Linked DNA regions of Homo sapiens: region 1 is linked to region 2. A link means that fine-mapping ties the variant in region 2 to the expression of a gene that starts in the linked region. Tissue or cell type: nasal epithelium. Region 2 holds a variant in brackets; the other region holds the start of a gene. All regions are shown on one strand. Distances are from middle to middle.

Region 1 (8,097 bases), 250 kb after region 2:
CCAGGCCAGCCCTCACAGCCCCACCTCCAGGCTCACAGGCCCTGAGGCAAGGCCCCCTGGAGCCCACCAGAGGGCAAGGGTAAGACTTAAGGACACCCCCTGCCTGTAGTGCTTGGTGACGAAAGGCAGCGGAAAGGGGATTATGCCAGTCCATCAAACACTTCCTTATAGTTCCTCTTGCCACATTTCCTAACACCAGAGCATGGCTCTGCCAAGAGAATCTTGCTCCATGGATAAGCCTCAGTCCCCAGTACTAGACAGGTGCTTTCCGGAAAGGCCCACACTACCGATGGTGCCACCTACCTGGGCTGGCCAAGGTGAGCGAGGGGCCTCTGGCTATTCAGGTCTTTCTTCCTTCCCTCTTTCTCTCAGATATACCTCCTGAGCAATCGGAGGTAAGTGGGGAGGCATTAGCCTCGAGAGCTGGCTTTCCGGAAACAGGACGGTAGCAGCGGGACACTCACTCCTGGCTTCTCCCAGAGGGAGAAGGGGCTCCTCCTGGCCTTCCCATGGCAGGTCACTGTTCCTTCTAACCATTTTCCTACCCCACCACCAACAACCCTTCATTTTGTGGAGTGTAAGAGGAAAAAAAAAAAAAAAGCCCAATAAAGTCCCCCTGAGCCAGGTGAAAATTCTGAAGCCAGATCTGGGGTCTCCAGAATCCAGGCAGGGGGCACCGCGGTCACCAGTTCCTCCCCACATCAGAAACACTCCGTACTGGCAAATTTTCGGAGGCTCTCTCCCGCCTCCATCCATTGGAAAGCCAAATGCTGCGGCCTGTGGCGCGGGACGGGCTTGAGAACATGCACCAGCCTGACCGGGGACTGGGCCGCCTCCCCGCGACCAGCAATCCTCCCTGAAAAAGGAGTCTTTGCAGATATTGCACCAACGTGCCCACAGGAAAGAGAAAATAGGTGCTCTAAGCATGTCGGACCCCAAATTAAGAATAAAAGTCCTCGAGGGCTGCAACGCTCTGGGGTGGGGGGTGGGGGACTGGTTCAAAGAGTAGGATTCTTCAGCTAACTTTTCCCCCCTCCCCATTCCTTGGGGCATGTGTCATGGCCTGTGACACACCGCCAAGGGAACATGGATGCCAGGGAAATGTCTACACACGCTACACGTTTGTGACATGCCATGTAAGCGACACCCTATTTCCTGGCTGGGTTTTCTTGGCACAGGTGTGGGCAGGCAGTGGATTCGGCCCCCTCCCACTGCGCTTAGTAAACAGGATCACGGTGGCCCCAGGGAGGAGTGTGCATTCTGGGGAAGACAAGCTACACCCCCAATGAGGATGGGACCCCCACGGCAAGCCTCAGGCCCAAGCCACAGCCGGTATTTGAAACTGTCCTTGTTTCAAAACACAAAGCATCCTGTTCAGGCTCCTACCCGCCACCCCCACTCTCCCCTCGACCCCACCACAGCTGTCTTTCTCCACGTACGAAGAAGGCCACCATTTGCAGATCTGATTTCAGAAACAGATCAATGGTTTTTCCTCTCCGACTCATCCAGCTGACCCAGTCCTACCCATGTATTTAAAAACAATAACAAAATTAAACCTCCAGCAACAAAACACACACGTATACACACACTCTACAGACAATGCCGGACCAGGGCTCCACCAAGCAGCTTCTAGGCTAGAACTCGACCACCGCTGGGTCCTGAGATATTCCAGGACCACTGCCCCCTCCCCCTCCACTTCCAACCTCTCAATGTGCGAATGAGATTTTCAGAAAGGGAAGCACCCCGTTCTGCCTGCCAGCCCTGGCAGGAAAGAGAATAAAGGACGGGTAAACCAAACAGAGAAACTGGCTTCTGGAAATTCTTTGGGTTTGGGGGTTTGGAGGTTTTGTTGTGTTGTTTGTTTTTTTTTTTAAATCTGAGGGGTGGTATTTTGTTTTCCCCTCCCCCACCCCTCAGATCCAGATGGGCCAGGGGCTTCCAGAGAGAACCCCCACCACCATCAGGGCCCAGCGTCGGGTCCATCCTCGAGTCCCAGCCACCAGAAACACAAGAGCTGGGGGCAGAAGGTCCCCAGGCACCCAGCCTGGCGGTGGGCCGAGTCTCCAGCATTTTAAGGGTCTCTCCTGAGCCCGGTCGGCTGGTTTGGGCTTCAGACTCCAAAATCGAGCCCCGCGAGCAGGCCAGGAGCGAGGCGCCCTGGTTCTCCCCGTTCCCCCGGCACCCCCCACCGCCCCCCAGGCCCTGGGCTCCAGGTGCAGCGCCAGGGGGCAGCCAGGGAGGGCGCATCTCGGGCCCCGAGGAGAGGCGGGGGTGCAGCCGCGCAGAGCCACTCACCGTGGCGGACGCCAGGCTGTTGTCGGCCAGCGTTAGGTGGTGCGGCTCCCAGCGCCTCAGGAATTTCGAGGTGAGGATCTTGCTGAGAAAGGTCCGCGGGTGCCGGATGACACAGACCTGAATGTCGCCCTCCTGCAGCAGTTTGTACCTCATCCCGTTGCAAAGCAGAAGAGCCCGGCGGCAGGGCACGGCGCCCATCTTCGTGCCTTCGGGGGCCGACACGTCGCCCCCCAGCAGCGGCTTGGTCTCCTCGATCTGCCGGGGGTCGCCGCCGCCGCCCGAGCTGCTGGTCACATCCATGGCCGCGCCGGGGGAGGGGGCTGGGGGCGGGGAGAGGGGGCTGTCCTGGGCTGCTGGGGCGGCGGGGCCCCCGGATCCGGCGGCCCGCACCCCCCCACCCCCCGGGAAGGTGGGGGGGTGTGGGGCTGGGGGCGCCCGCAGGGGAGGGGGCGCTGCCCGCGGGGGGCGGCGCGTGCGGCGGGCTGGGCCGGCCTCGGCGCTTCCTGCGGGGCTCCGGGCTTCCTCCTAGCTCGTCGGGTGCATGCTCGCGGCGGCTGACCGGGCTCGGCGGGCGACGGGGAGGGGCGGGGGAGGCCGAGGGCGGGCCGGGGCCAGGCGCGGAGGGCGGGCGCCGGGGTGGGGGCGGCGGGGTGGGGGCGGGCGTGTCTCGGGGCCCCGCGCCGCCGCGCGCGTGTGTACAGAGCGTGTGTCCGCGCGGCCGTCCGGGCGAGAGTGGCCGCGGGCGGGGCGGGCCGCGCGCCGGGCTCCCGGAGCCCGGGGCGCCCGCGCGATTGGTCCCCGCAGGGTCATGTGCCCGCCCCTCTGACGTCAATGGCGGCAACGGCGGCGGCCGCGGCGGCTTCGGCCTCTCGCGGGCGGAGTCCGCGGTCCGGGCGGGGTCGCGGCCCACGACGGGGAGGCGCGGCCCGACGGGAGGGGCAGCCCCTGGGGAGGGGGCTGGGGCGGGCGAGCCCCGCGGGGTCCCGGCCCGCCCCGCCTGGAATGTGGGGAGGGGGCGGGGCGCGGGGGCGGGGCGCGTGACGTCACGCCAGCCGCGCCCCCGCGGGTGCCCGGGCGGGAGCCCAGCCAGGCTGCCGGAGCCTGGGGGCCCGCGCCTCACCCACCCCCGCCGCCCCCGGGCCGGACTCGGACGGGTAAAGAAGGATACCCGAGGGCCGGGGGCTGGGTGGAAGGACGGGGACTGGAACCCTCGACCCCTGACGCCCCCTCCGCTGTCCAGGCTGTCCAGCGGGCTGGCCAGATGGGGCCGTGGGACGGGGACGCCTTCCCGACTGAAAGTGTCCCCGCGGTGATCCGGAGGATGAGCCCACCCTGCCCTGTCTCCCACTGCGGGACCCAGCCGGCCTCGAACTCCTGGCCTTTGACGTCTGCTGGCTTTGGCCTTGGGGGTCCTCAAACCTTCTGGAGAGAGGGGACGGTCCGCCCATCCCCCTTCTTTCTTCTGCCCAGGGAGACAGAGCCTCTTCTAGGAACCCACTTAAAGCACCCCCCAACCTACACAGCCACCCCTCTTGTGCGCACCCCAGCAGCTCCCCCTACTTCACCTTCCCTGGGACCCCACCTGGTCATTTTATCTGAGTTCACAGGCCCAGCACCAGCCCACGAGAGAACCATATTCGATTCTCTTGTGACCCAGGGTATCAGGAACTGCAGCCTGGATGCAAAAAGCTCCCTTTCTGCCATCACAAGCAGCCGGCACCTAAGGCCACCTAGCAAATGCTCAGCTCCTCAGCCAGGTTTTCTTATCTCCACGTGCTCCTGCAGCTAATAACGTTAAAACCCTAGATTTTTGCCTTTTTAAGTGAAGGCGCCTCTGTAGTGAACACATGAATGTGTGCAGCGTGTGTTGAACTGCGTCGTGAACACTGCGGAATATCCACAGCATCTGTGCCGTTGGTGGAAATTATTCACCCCCCCTCTCCCAAGAACAGGCAGCATGAAGGTGCTCCCCAGAGGACCCTCTCCCCGAGCCTGGCCAGGGTTTCAGGCAGGGGATGAAAGGCAGGTCCCAGGCTGCATCCCTCACCAAGGAAAGAAGACTCACATCCAGCCTGCCCAGGAGATGCCTCCTTGGGGAGGCACAATTAGATTAGAAAGTTAGAAATTCCTTAGCTCCCCACAATTTGCTGCCATTTCCTTCCAGTTTTGAGCTTGAACAGCCTTGAGAAAACCACCAAGCATGAAGGGGCAAGCCCTAGATATGTGGGTGTTGGGGGGTGGTTGGGGCCAAGAAACCCCCCAGTCCATTAAGCGGGTGGGATTAGATCCTTTGTTCAAATATTTTCATTGAGCTCCTGCTGTATGCTGGTCACAGGCCAGGCACTAGGGTATTAATGGTAATGACTATAATAACCACAGTGGCCAGAGGCTTCCTATGTGCTAAGAATTTTGTACGCACACATCATTCTCTTCTCACACCCTATGACATAGGTGCTGTCCTCATCCTCAACCACAAAGCATGGAGGTCAGAGTCCAGAACAGTAACAGACATTGTGCTTGGTGCTCCAGGAACAGAAAGGGGGATGTCTAACCCAGTGTGGGGGACCAGGGTACTCTAAGAGTTCTTTAGGAATCAAGTAAAGAAGGGGATAGGTGCTCCAAGAAGACGAACTGGCTCCTACCAAGGCAAAGAGATGGGAGGATGCTCAGCTTGTTCAGGAAACTGAACTCACTTGCCATGGGGTGCAAGGTCCCTGGAGGAGGTGGAGCAGAGATGTAGGCGGTGAGCAAGCAGCACCCTGAAATGCAAACCCAGGGACTAGAGCAGTGGGGAGACACCACATGGGCCATGCAAAGGAGTGACTTGTACATGGCTTCTTCAAAAGGCTGCAGTGTGGCACAGATGAGCATTGCAGAGGAGAAACCTAGAGGCAAGGAGGCCAGTGAGGAGACTTTCATGCTCACCTACCCCCCACAGAAGGAAGCAACAAGGGCTAGCACAAAGTCACTGGGTGGAGTGGCCCAGTGGCAAGCAAAGCAGCTGCTGTCCACTTCGGGGACATCTGTGGACACGCCCCTACCCATACAGGGCACAAAACTCCAGTAGAAGGAGGAGATTTAGCAGGATGCAAATCCCTGATATATTCCAGGACCATTCCAGACATCCTCCATGCAGCCCAGTACAGTGGTTGATTTGTAAACATTAAGTAGGACATACCGTGATAATAATGACCGGTACCCAAGCACCAGATACCATGCTGGAGGCCTTATGTATTTGTTCTCGTTTATTCCTCCCCACCAGCCTAGGAGGTAGGAACTATTACCATCCCCATCTTAAGTGAGGAAGTTGAGGCTCAGACAGGGTCAGACAACTATCAGGATCCAGCCGAGGTTTGAACCTCAGATTCTGTTCGACCTCAAATTCCATGTGCTTCCCACTCCTCTGGGAATTTAGGAGGACATTACAAATGTCTGTCTTTGTAATGTTGTCCTGAGCAGGCATTCAGGAAGAAAGTATTGAATTCAATCAGTGTCCTCTTTAAATAGCAGTATTTCTTGAATATAGTTTCAAATCAGTGAAATGGAGCCCCCAAGACACGGCAAAGAAAGTTCCTGAGGGCAGAAGCCAGAAGCGCCTGTCTGGCAACAGCACTAGCTCAGTGCCTGGACAAAGCTGGGGTGCAGCAAATACACAGGGATTGATTGTCAAAAACATACTCCTTGGTGCTTAGCAAAGGTCCAGCCACAGGACTGGGTCAGTAAGTTGCGGGGGATGAGCTGGGATGGCGTTAGTACTCAGTCTGTGACAGTGTGACAGTTGAGTCCACAGCCTCCTAGACTGGGATTTGGCTAACTCATTGCAGAGCCCCTCCACCTTCCACTATCCCAGGCTCCCAACCTAGAAAGGAATCTGAATCCAGCCATCAGATTCCATCAGAGCCCCATCCCTGGAGCTCCCCAAATTATAGGAAACATGAGCCCGTCGAGCTCCCGTGGATGGACCATGTCCCCGAGTTGTGCTCAATGCCCTGGAACTCCAGACCCTCCAAAGAATGGTCCGAGCCCCTAAGAGCCTCCCCTTCCAACACTGAACTTGAGAAGCTTACGGAGTAGCAGGAAGGGCACGGCGGTTCACGCACCCTTCACTCCCCTTGGGCTCTCGCAGGCTCGTTCACTAACCAGAGGCCAGTTCACCAGACAAACCTGTCATTTTCTGCATTCTTTGCTGGCGGTGTCTCCTTGTTTGAGCCAGGTTCCAAAGGATGACGTGTGCCCTCACCTGAACTACCGCTTTCGTTCAACAGCCCACTGTGGGGTCACCCCGGGCCACACTGGTGGAGGACCCACTCGATCAACTCAATGCTAGGAGCTGGGATGCCAAACTGAACAGTAAAGTGCCTTCATGGGCACAGTCTCAACTCGAGTTCTCTGAGGTGTCCCCTGTAGCTAACTCAGAAGGGAAAGACACACCCGCTACCCAGGCTGCCATTAAGGAATTTGATGAGGTGGCAAAGTACCTGTTGGGGAGGAGAGCAGTGGAGCTGAGGGGCAGCCTAGGAGAGGTTGAGCTGAGGCGCCTTCCAGCAGCCACACCTGTAAGTGGATGTTCCCCCTGCTCCCATGAGGGCAGCATTTTATGTGCTATGGATCTGTAGCACCCAGCACCGTCCCCAGCCCTCAAATAGGTGCTAATAAACAGGTGTTTAACGGAATTAAATAAAAGAAAGAATGAATGAAGCGGGCAAAGTAAATGCATAGTGATTTTCGGTTGAATGGCTGGATCTCGCTGCGATGTCAATGTCCTCACCCCTGAGCTACGTGACACTGCTTCATTCATTTTCTTTTATTTGATTCCATTAAACATCTGTTTATTAGCACCTATTTGAGGGCCGGGGACGGTGTTGGGTACTACAGATCCATAGCACACAAAATGCTGCCCTCATGGGAGCTCAGCAACTATTGTCATGGGGGGTCAGCAACTATAGTCAAGGGGCCAGATTCAGCCCATGGACTCCAAAGCCTAAAATATTCACTCTCTGGCCCCTTTTCAGAAAAAGTTTGGCAACCCTTACAATAGACATAAATAACTTCAAGAAGAGAGATACCGGCAAAATGTACTAAAATAATTAGGAAACGATGAGTTGTATTACCTTTTAAAAAATATTATTCATTTAATTGTAACTTTACATAACTTAATCTTTTTTTTAACTGGCTGTTTAACAACCAGCAGTCTCCAGTGGAGATCCACTCCAGCCTCTGCACAGCTCTCTCTCCTTGCCCCACCCCACCATGAAATGGTGCACAAACCCCAATGCACTGCACTGTACCCTCCAAGCGGGCAGGGTTCATTCTGGTTTTGCTCACCACTGTATCCAGGGTCGTGTTCAATAGTCAGCCTGCTGAAAAAAGGAAAGCCTGATCTATAAAGTTTGACAATTTCCCTGGTGCAAATACAACCACCATGGCCAATTATTATACAAGCTACCAACATGTGTCCTTGGACATGGAGTTAGGAAGACATGCACCCCACGGCAGAGTTTCCACCACACAGATACAATACACCAGCAAGGGGCCAGATTCAGCCATGGACTGCAAAGCCTAAAATATTCACTCTCTGGCCCCTTTACAGAAAAAGTTTGGCGACCGCTACAATCGACATAAATAACTTCAAGAAGAGAGATACCGGCAAAATGTAGTAAAATAATTAGGAAGTGATGAGTTGTATTACCTTTTAAAAATATTATTTACTTGTAACTTTACATAACTTAATTTTTTTTACTGGCTGTTTGACAACCAGCTTGCAAAATTTCTGAAAAATTAACAATCAGCTGTCATGAGCCA
Region 2 (8,104 bases):
AGAACCAGACAGGATCAAAATGCTGCCTCAGAGCTGGTTGAGAGCTGCCATGCCAGCCCAGCCCGAAATCAAGGCCTCGGCTGCGGGCAGAAACCACCAGCCAGTGGAAAACCACCCCCGGTGAGCCGGCGTTTACAGTAAAACACTGACATCACAGGCTGGGCTCTGCACCAGGCGGGGATGTGTTTATACACAGGCAATGGGTCTCTGAAAGCTGTTCTGAATGCCTGTTGGTGACAAGCTTCAGAAGGCCTCTAAGGGGCCCTCGTGCATCCTGCCATCCCCAGACAGCCGGCCTGAGATGCAGAAACAAAGGCCTCACCTCTTGCCTGGGGTCTTCGGCGAACCTCTGAATCACGTACTTCAGTTCCCTGGAAGAGACGAGGCGGCCGGAGTTACTGCCGGGGTCTGGAACTGAGTGGGAGGTGTGGGAAGGGGAGGGGATGGTGTCAAGGAAGAACGGGCCAGGGAGCTGGGCAAGGCGGTGGATCAGGGACACGTGTCTCAAGAGAACTGCCAAGAGGAGCCACCACTGCCTCCCAGAATGCATGGGCCACGGAGGGAAGACCTCAGGACAGAGGCCGTGCGTGCCAGAATGGAATGAGGGCGGTGCCCAGACACTCACTTGGTGAACTTCTCATGTGCGAGAGCTCTGCAACAAAAACAGGGGAAAACACGGCGGTTAACAGAAGCGTCGGAAACAGCACAATGTTCCCAAGATTAACCTCTGGGGACGTCTAGACTTTATGTCTGATTCAAAGAATGAAGAGGAATGTGAGTGAAATGCCAACATTTTGTCCCCACTCAAAGCTCCAAAACAAAGGCCTTCTTTGAGGAGGCGGCAGATCAGAGCAACATGAACACACTGGGCCCCCCATTCCCGAAAGTTCCCTGTGCCCACACCTGTGAATAAGAGGGGCTAAGCTGCTGCCTGAGCATGTGTGGGTGCATGTGGGCTCCGGAGACCCAGGTGTGTTCATTAATTGTTCCACGATTAAGGCGGGCGGCACTCATTACTGCACACATCAGCGGCCATGGGGGACCATTCTTCTAAGACAGTTGCCACAGCCAAGAGCGCCCAGGCCTATGGGGACGGGGACTGAGGCCAATGACGTCACGACTCTGCTGAGACTGAGCGCCTCTTAGGAGGTGGATTTCTCCGGCCTCAAGTACTGGGGACCCTCGGGGACTGGCCAGGCCAGCACATGGGGCAATTACTGCGTGTAATGTGCCCTTACAGAGGCAGCATTTCCTAAACACGCTTGGTAATCGGCTCCTTCGAGAGCCCCAGCTGCCTCCCGAGGCTTGCTCCTTCCAACCTCTTGAAAGAGACCTGGAGGCATTTCAGGGCCTGGTTATTTTGACAAAGCCTTCTCTTCAGGCCATTATCCACCAGACAGCGTTCTCTCTAGTTTCCAGTGATCAATTCAATATGGTGCTAGGGGCCGGCAAGAGAGAGGCAGAGGGTCTGTTTCTGGCCAGGTTTGCTGCAGAGCCTGAGCTGAGCGTTGTACCGGGCGTAATTAGAGCGCTTCCAGCATCTCAGTACGGCACAGCGAGCAATGCTACGCGCATTATCTTTTGATTCTTACTATCGCCCTCGGAAGAGGAGCGGCAGGTATTACGGTTCCCATCTGGTGCATAATAAAAGACGATAACTGCACGGCCTGCCAGGAGCCATGGGGAGGGCTCTGTTTGCATTCTTAGCTCATGAATCCTTGTGACAATGCAGTCAAGCAGCTCCTACAATGTCCCTGTTCTCCTGAGTTCCCCATTTTTCTGAGGGAAGATGTGCCTCCCCAGGGGTCCCACAGCTGAGGACGTGGCTGAGCTGGTACCGACGTCTCCAGGGTCTTCCCGCTGTGACTTCGCTTCCCCATAACATGACTGGCCCCCCACTAAGGCCTTGGTGGACAACTGAGGTTTGTCTCACAGGTGGGAGGGCTCCGGGGATGCACACGGGACTTACTCTTTGGGGAATGGAATGGGTTGAAGCAAACTGGCCAGAGACGGTCTCCAGTCATCATAGTCTGACCTAGAATGAGAGAGGGTGACAGTCAGCTTTGGTTGGGACAAGGAAGGTTTATGGCACTGTTTTTGGTCCCAGATGGGCCAAAAGATGGGGTGAGAGCCTGGCAGGTAGTCAGTGGCACTGACTTCTCCACCCACTTCCACCTCCAGGATGAGCAAGTCAATGTTCTCAGCGTGGCCTCAAGGACTCACAACTGGGCCTGTGCAGAGACTTCCTCATGGCACCCGAGGGGGTGAGCTGTCTATTCCCCAGACTTCACAATGCCCTTTGAACCAAGGCTACGTGATCATTGTTCATGCCCTCTTTGGGACCATTAGGGGGTGTTTTAGGCTGAACTTTGCCCCCCATTCATATACTGAAGCTCTGCACCCCAGTACTTCAGAATGTGACTGTACTGGGAGACACAACCTTTAAAGAGGTGATTAGGTTACAATGAGGCTGTAGACGGATGTCCTTAGAAGAAGAGGAAACACGGACACGCAGAGCAAAGACCAGCCAGGACTCAGCGAGAAGGCAGCCATCTGCAAGCCAGGAGAGAGGCCTCCAGAGAAACCAGCCCTGCCCACACCTTGATTTCAGGGTTGTGCCTTCCCGAACTGAGAGAAATACATGTTTGTTGAGTAAGCTATGAGGTTGATGGTACTTTATAGCAGTCCTAGCAAACTAATGTAGGGGGCTTAGGCTGGGACCCTGGGGCCATTCTCACCTTTCTGTGATCAGAACTGAGGGAAAATTCTATAGACAGAATCATAAACAACAAACATTCTAAGCTGTTTGTTTGTAGTTTGGGTCAAACCTCCTGATTTGTTGGATCCCTTTTTTTTCTTTTTCTAAAATTTATTATTATTATTTGAGACACAGTCCTACTCTGTTGCCCAGGCTGGAGTGCAATGGCACGATCTCAGCTCACTGCAACCTCCACCTCCTGGGTTCAAGTGATTCTCGTGCCTCAGCCTTCCGAGCAGCTGGGATTATAGGCGTGCGCCACTATGCCCAGCTAATTTTTTGTATTTCTAGTAGGGATGGGGTTTTGCCATGTTGGCCATGCTGGTCTTGAACTCCTGGCCTCAGGTGATCTGCCTGCCTCAGCCTCCCAAAGTGCTGGGATAGGCCAGGTGTGGTGGCTCACGCCTGTAATCCCAGCTGCTCAGGAGGCTGAGGCAGGATAATTGCTAGAACCTGGGAGGCGGAGGCCGCAGTGAGCTGAGATCACCCCACTGCACTCTAGCCTGGACAACAGAGCGAGACTCAGACTCAAAAAAATAAATAACTCAAAGTGCTAGGATTACAGGTGTGAGGCACCATGCCTGGCCTTGGTGGATACTTCTATTTTTGCTTTCAGACAACAGCTTTTCTTCTTTTCTAAGAGTTGATGCTAAATACCCAGGAATCCAACTTACAAGGGAAGTGAAGGACCTCTTCAAGGAGAACTACAAACCACTGCTCAATGAAATAAAAGAGGACACAAAGAAATGGAAGAACATTCCATGCTCATGGATAGGAAGAATCAATATCGTGAAAATGGCCATACTGCCCAAGGTAATTTATAGATTCAATGCCATCCCCATCAACCTACCAATGACTTTCTTCACAGAATTGGAAAAAACTACTTTAAAGTTCATATGGAACCAAAAAAGAGCCCACATTGCCAAGACAATCCTAAGCCAAAAGAACAAAGCTAGAGGCATCACGCTACCTGACTTCAAACTCTACTACAAGGCTACAGTAACCAAAACAGCATGGTACTGGTACCAAAACAGAGATACAGACCAATGGAACAGAACAGGGCCCTCAGAAATAATACCACACATCTACAACCACCTGATCTTTGACAAACCTGATAAAAACAAGAAATGGGGAAAGGATTCCCTATTTGATAAATGGTGCTGGGAAAACTGGCTAGCCATATGTAGAAAGCTGAAACTGGATCCCTTCCTTACACCTTATGCAAAAATTAATTCAAGATGGATTAAAGACTTAAATGTTAGACCTAAAACCATAATAGCCCTAGAAGAAAACCTAGGCAATACCTTTCAGGACATAAACATGGGCAAGGACTTCATGACTAAAATACCAAAAGCAATGGCAACAAAAGCCAAAATTGACAAATGGGATCTAATTAAACTAAAGAGCTTCTGCACAGCAAAAGAAACCACCATCAGAGTGAAAAGGAAACCTACAGAATGGGAGAAAATTTTTACAATCTACCCATCTGACAAAGGGCTAATATCCAGAATCTACAAAGAACTTAAACAAATTTACAAGAAAAAATCAACCCCATCAAAAAGTGGGCGAAGGATATGAACAGACACTTCTCAAAAGAAGACATTTATGCAGCCAACAGACACATGAAAAAATGCTCATCATCACTGGCCATCAGAGAAATGCAAATGAAAACCACAATGAGATACCATCTCACACCAGTTAGAATGGCGATCATTAAAAAGTCAGGAAACAACAGGTGCTGGAGAGGATGTGGAGAAATAGGAACACTTTTACACTGTTGGTGGGACTGTAAACTAGTTCAACCATTGTGGAAGACAGTGTGGAGATGCCTTGAGGATCTAGAACTAGAAATACCATTTGACCCAGCCATCCCATTACTGGGTATATACCCAAAGGATTATAAATCACGCTGCTATAAAGACACATGCACATGTATATTGATTGCAGCACTATTCACAATAGCAAAGACTTGGAACCAACCAAAATGTCCATCAATGACAGACTGGATTAAGAAGATGTGGCACATATACACCATGGAATACTATGCAGCCATAAAAAAGGATGAGTTCATGTCCTCTGTAGGGACATGGATGAAGCTGGAAACCATCATTCTGAGCAAACTATCGCAAGGACAGAAAACGAACACCGCATGTTCTCACTCATAGGTGGGAACTGAAAAATGAGAACACTTGGCCACGGGGTGGGGAACATCACACACCGGGGCCTGTTGTGGGGTTGGGGGA[G/A]GAGGGAGGGATAGCATTAGGAGATATATCTAATGTAAATGATGAGTTAATGGGTGCAGCACATCAACATGGTACATGTATACATATGTAACAAACCTGCACATTGTGCACATGTACCCTAGAACTTAAAGTATATTAAAAAAAAACAGAGTTGATGCTAATGACGGTAATAACAATGACAATAACAACAGCAGCTCCGATGTCACGGAGACTTTCCACACACACTGCAGGATGCTAAGGGCTATACCTTAGTTCATTTACTCTTTACAAGAGCACAATAAAGTCAGTGTGACTAACCCCACTTAACAGATGACGAACTGGAGGCTCAGAGGTTTAAGGTCACACAGCTGTGGCATATGAGGAGTCAAATCCAGGCTTCTGTGACAGCAGAGCCTTGGCTCTCACCAGCCCTGAAAGGCCACGGCTGTGATCTTAGCAAAAGCCAACGCCTGCCTGGGTAAGGAAGGAGGGCTAAACCTCAGTGAGAGCAGCTGCGGGAAGCACCGTGCTGTTCACCTGACTTCACTTAACCCTTTCATGAAAGAGCCTCCTTCCTGTGTGCAGAGACAGCGGGAGAGGTCAGTTACCCACTCCGAGTCATCTACACAGCCTAGGAAGGGGTAAAGCTGGACTCAGAACCAGGTATTTCAGGCTCTATCACACCATGGTGTGTGGTGAAGCCAGGCACCAGGGTGTCACCCCCATCCGACCCTGGGAAGACCACTGTCCCACAACCGAACAGTATTAGCACTGCTGATAACGCAGATGCAATTCGCTCTGCGCTGCCTGCGCACCGGGGCTTGAAGTAAGGGCACTGCTTGTGTTCGCTCATGGGATCTACCCAGAGGACCCTGTGTGCTGAGTCCAAATTACGGACAAGGAGCAGTATGGCAATTCACTGACCGTGACCACAGGGCTGTGATACAGCCAGGCCACAGCAGGGAAGCAATAGCTTCGGGAGTTTCCTGAGGCCCAACAGGCTGCTTCCCGACCACCTACCAGCACAGCTTCATAAAGAGGGAGTTTTTTGGCCAACTCTTGCCCCCAAAAGCTGGGAGCGTCCAGAGAACTCGCCGGCGTCTCAGTCTGAGTACAGATGGGCTTGTATCACACAGCAGAGCACTCACACACGGCCCCCAGAGACTGCAGTCATGACAACCCCCATTTTACAGACGAGGAAAATGAGGCTCAGAGCTGTTTGTGATTTCCCACAAGTCACCAGCAAGTGGCTGAGATCTGACCTCAGGTGCTTCAAAGACCATGACCCGTCCTCTCGGCCCCAGCACCTGCACTGTGTTTATAACCAGTTCCCCCACCTGGGTTCCGGATCTCTCTGGCTATAGGGACTCCGCGGAAAAACAAACCCAGAGGTAGTCAGTTCTCGCCTAAGCCAGGCCTGGGCACCTCTGAGGGCCCAGAGCTTAAAACCGTGACACATAAAGTGAGGGGTGGCCACTGGAGCAGTCCCCATCCGAATCACAGAGCTGTCCCTGGTGTTCCCCAGCTTCTGACCATCTTGCCTCGGACCACCCCAGGAGGGGCCCAGGTCTCATCTCTGCATCCCCCATGCTGGGCCCCGGGCTGGGTGGATGGCTGGTGCTTGGGAGGGGACTGCTGAACACAAGGCCCAGTGCACACTGGGACCGGGCCAATGACAGAGCCTGGGGCCTGTGACCGGCTTCAGAGCAGAAGGGATGTTGAGTCTCCATCTGGGGGACTAGCAAGTGCCACCAGGTGCCAAGATCGAGTGGGATGCTGACTTCGATCCTGGCTTGCACTGGGGCAGGAGGTGGGATCTGAACCCTTGTCCAGTGGTCTGTGTTGGGGAGGCGCTGCAGAGAGATGCCCCGCTGACACCTGGGCACCACCCACGGGAGAGGCCAGGGGGTGCTCAGACCCGGGCTGGGCAGAGGGGTGGTCCCGGGACCCCTACCCACATACGACTCACCACAGATACACTGTGTATCGGTTTGCGTGCTGTGTGTCTAACTGTGCCTTACATAGAAACGGGAGGAGATGTTTTTTTCACCAAGTACAAATGTTCACTCCCATCGACAACAGGCGGTTTAGATAACCCCTGAGTGAGGGCTTTTCCTGCCCCACCTTCCTCCAAATAAGCCCACGATAGAGTGGCAGCCTTCAGAACCCCAATCATACCCTGGAAGCTTCTGAGGAAAGGCTCCGATGCCAGACGCGGAGAAAAGAATGACCAGGAAAGCCTGTTGCCTGAGATAAGTCCTGACAGTGATGCCAGCGACCGCTTACTCACTGCCTACCCGACTTGCTCACTTAATCTCCAGAGCGGTATGTGAGGGCAGAGGGTGCCGGTGAGGAAGCTGAACTCCACGCCTGGGAGGCAGATGAGGACTGACAGCAGGTCCTCTGGACTGCAGTGCTTGAGTGCGGAAGGCCCAGGTGCAGCCTGGGGTTCTCAGAGCTGCAGGAGCCTGAGGCCTGTCGTGTGCATGTCAGGACATGGAGACCCCTTTATGCCCCCGTATTCACATGCTCCCTTCTGAGGGGTCATCTGTTTTTGCAGCTAGCTTGTCTTCCCTCCAGAAGAATCACCTTCCTCCTTTCCTCCCACCTGTCCCTGACTCATGGTTTCCAGAAAATGGAAATGCAGTTGACAGCAAACCTCGTCTGCAGCGCCTGCTGCGTGCCAGGTGCTCTCCAAGGGCTCCCATGCGTCAGCCCATGCAACTCTCCCAGCAACTTGGCTGGGCGGGTGCTCTTGGCACCCCCATTTTATAGGCAGGAAAATGGAGACACAGTGATGGGCTGCCCTGGCCCCAGGCCACACAGCTGGTGAGAGCTGGGATCTGAACCTGTGAGCCTGGCCCCAGTGTCTGTGCTCCACCCTCTCAATAACCATGTCTCACAAGGAGGGTGGCCCGGCTCACACCTGAGAAGGAAGACGATCTCCCTATATCACAAGGACACTGGTGGGCACATGGTGGCTCACGCCTGTAATCCCAGCACTTTGGGAGGCTGAGGCGGGAGGATTGCTTGAGGCCAGGAGTTCGAGACTGGCTTGGGCAACATAAAGAGATCCCATCTCTAAAAAGAAAAAAAAAGTTAAAAAAAAAAAAAAAAAGTAAGC

Evidence for each region. PIP is the estimated chance that this variant, and not a neighbour inherited with it, causes the effect.
Region 1: it holds the start of CMIP, and the variant in region 2 is fine-mapped to the expression of CMIP in nasal epithelium (TOPMed, PIP above 0.99).

Annotation. Positions count from the first base shown.
Region 1 is chr16:81,439,740-81,447,836 of GRCh38, reverse strand. It overlaps CMIP (c-Maf inducing protein), which reads right to left and starts at 3,029. Exons shown (of 21, transcript NM_198390.3): 1 at 2,296-3,029. The coding sequence starts at 2,595. RefSeq lists enhancers at 1-725, 726-1,491, 3,656-4,188 and silencers at 2,037-2,336, 2,767-2,816, 2,887-3,236, 3,347-3,446.
Region 2 is chr16:81,685,706-81,693,809 of GRCh38, reverse strand. CMIP (c-Maf inducing protein) reads right to left here. Exons shown (of 21, transcript NM_198390.3): 11 at 1,970-2,035; 12 at 626-652; 13 at 323-371. Among named protein-coding and RNA genes, the nearest start is that of MIR6504, 78 kb to the right of the region's middle. RefSeq lists enhancers at 2,071-2,710, 6,589-7,326, 7,327-8,066. The variant G/A (reference allele first, on the strand shown) is at 5,002.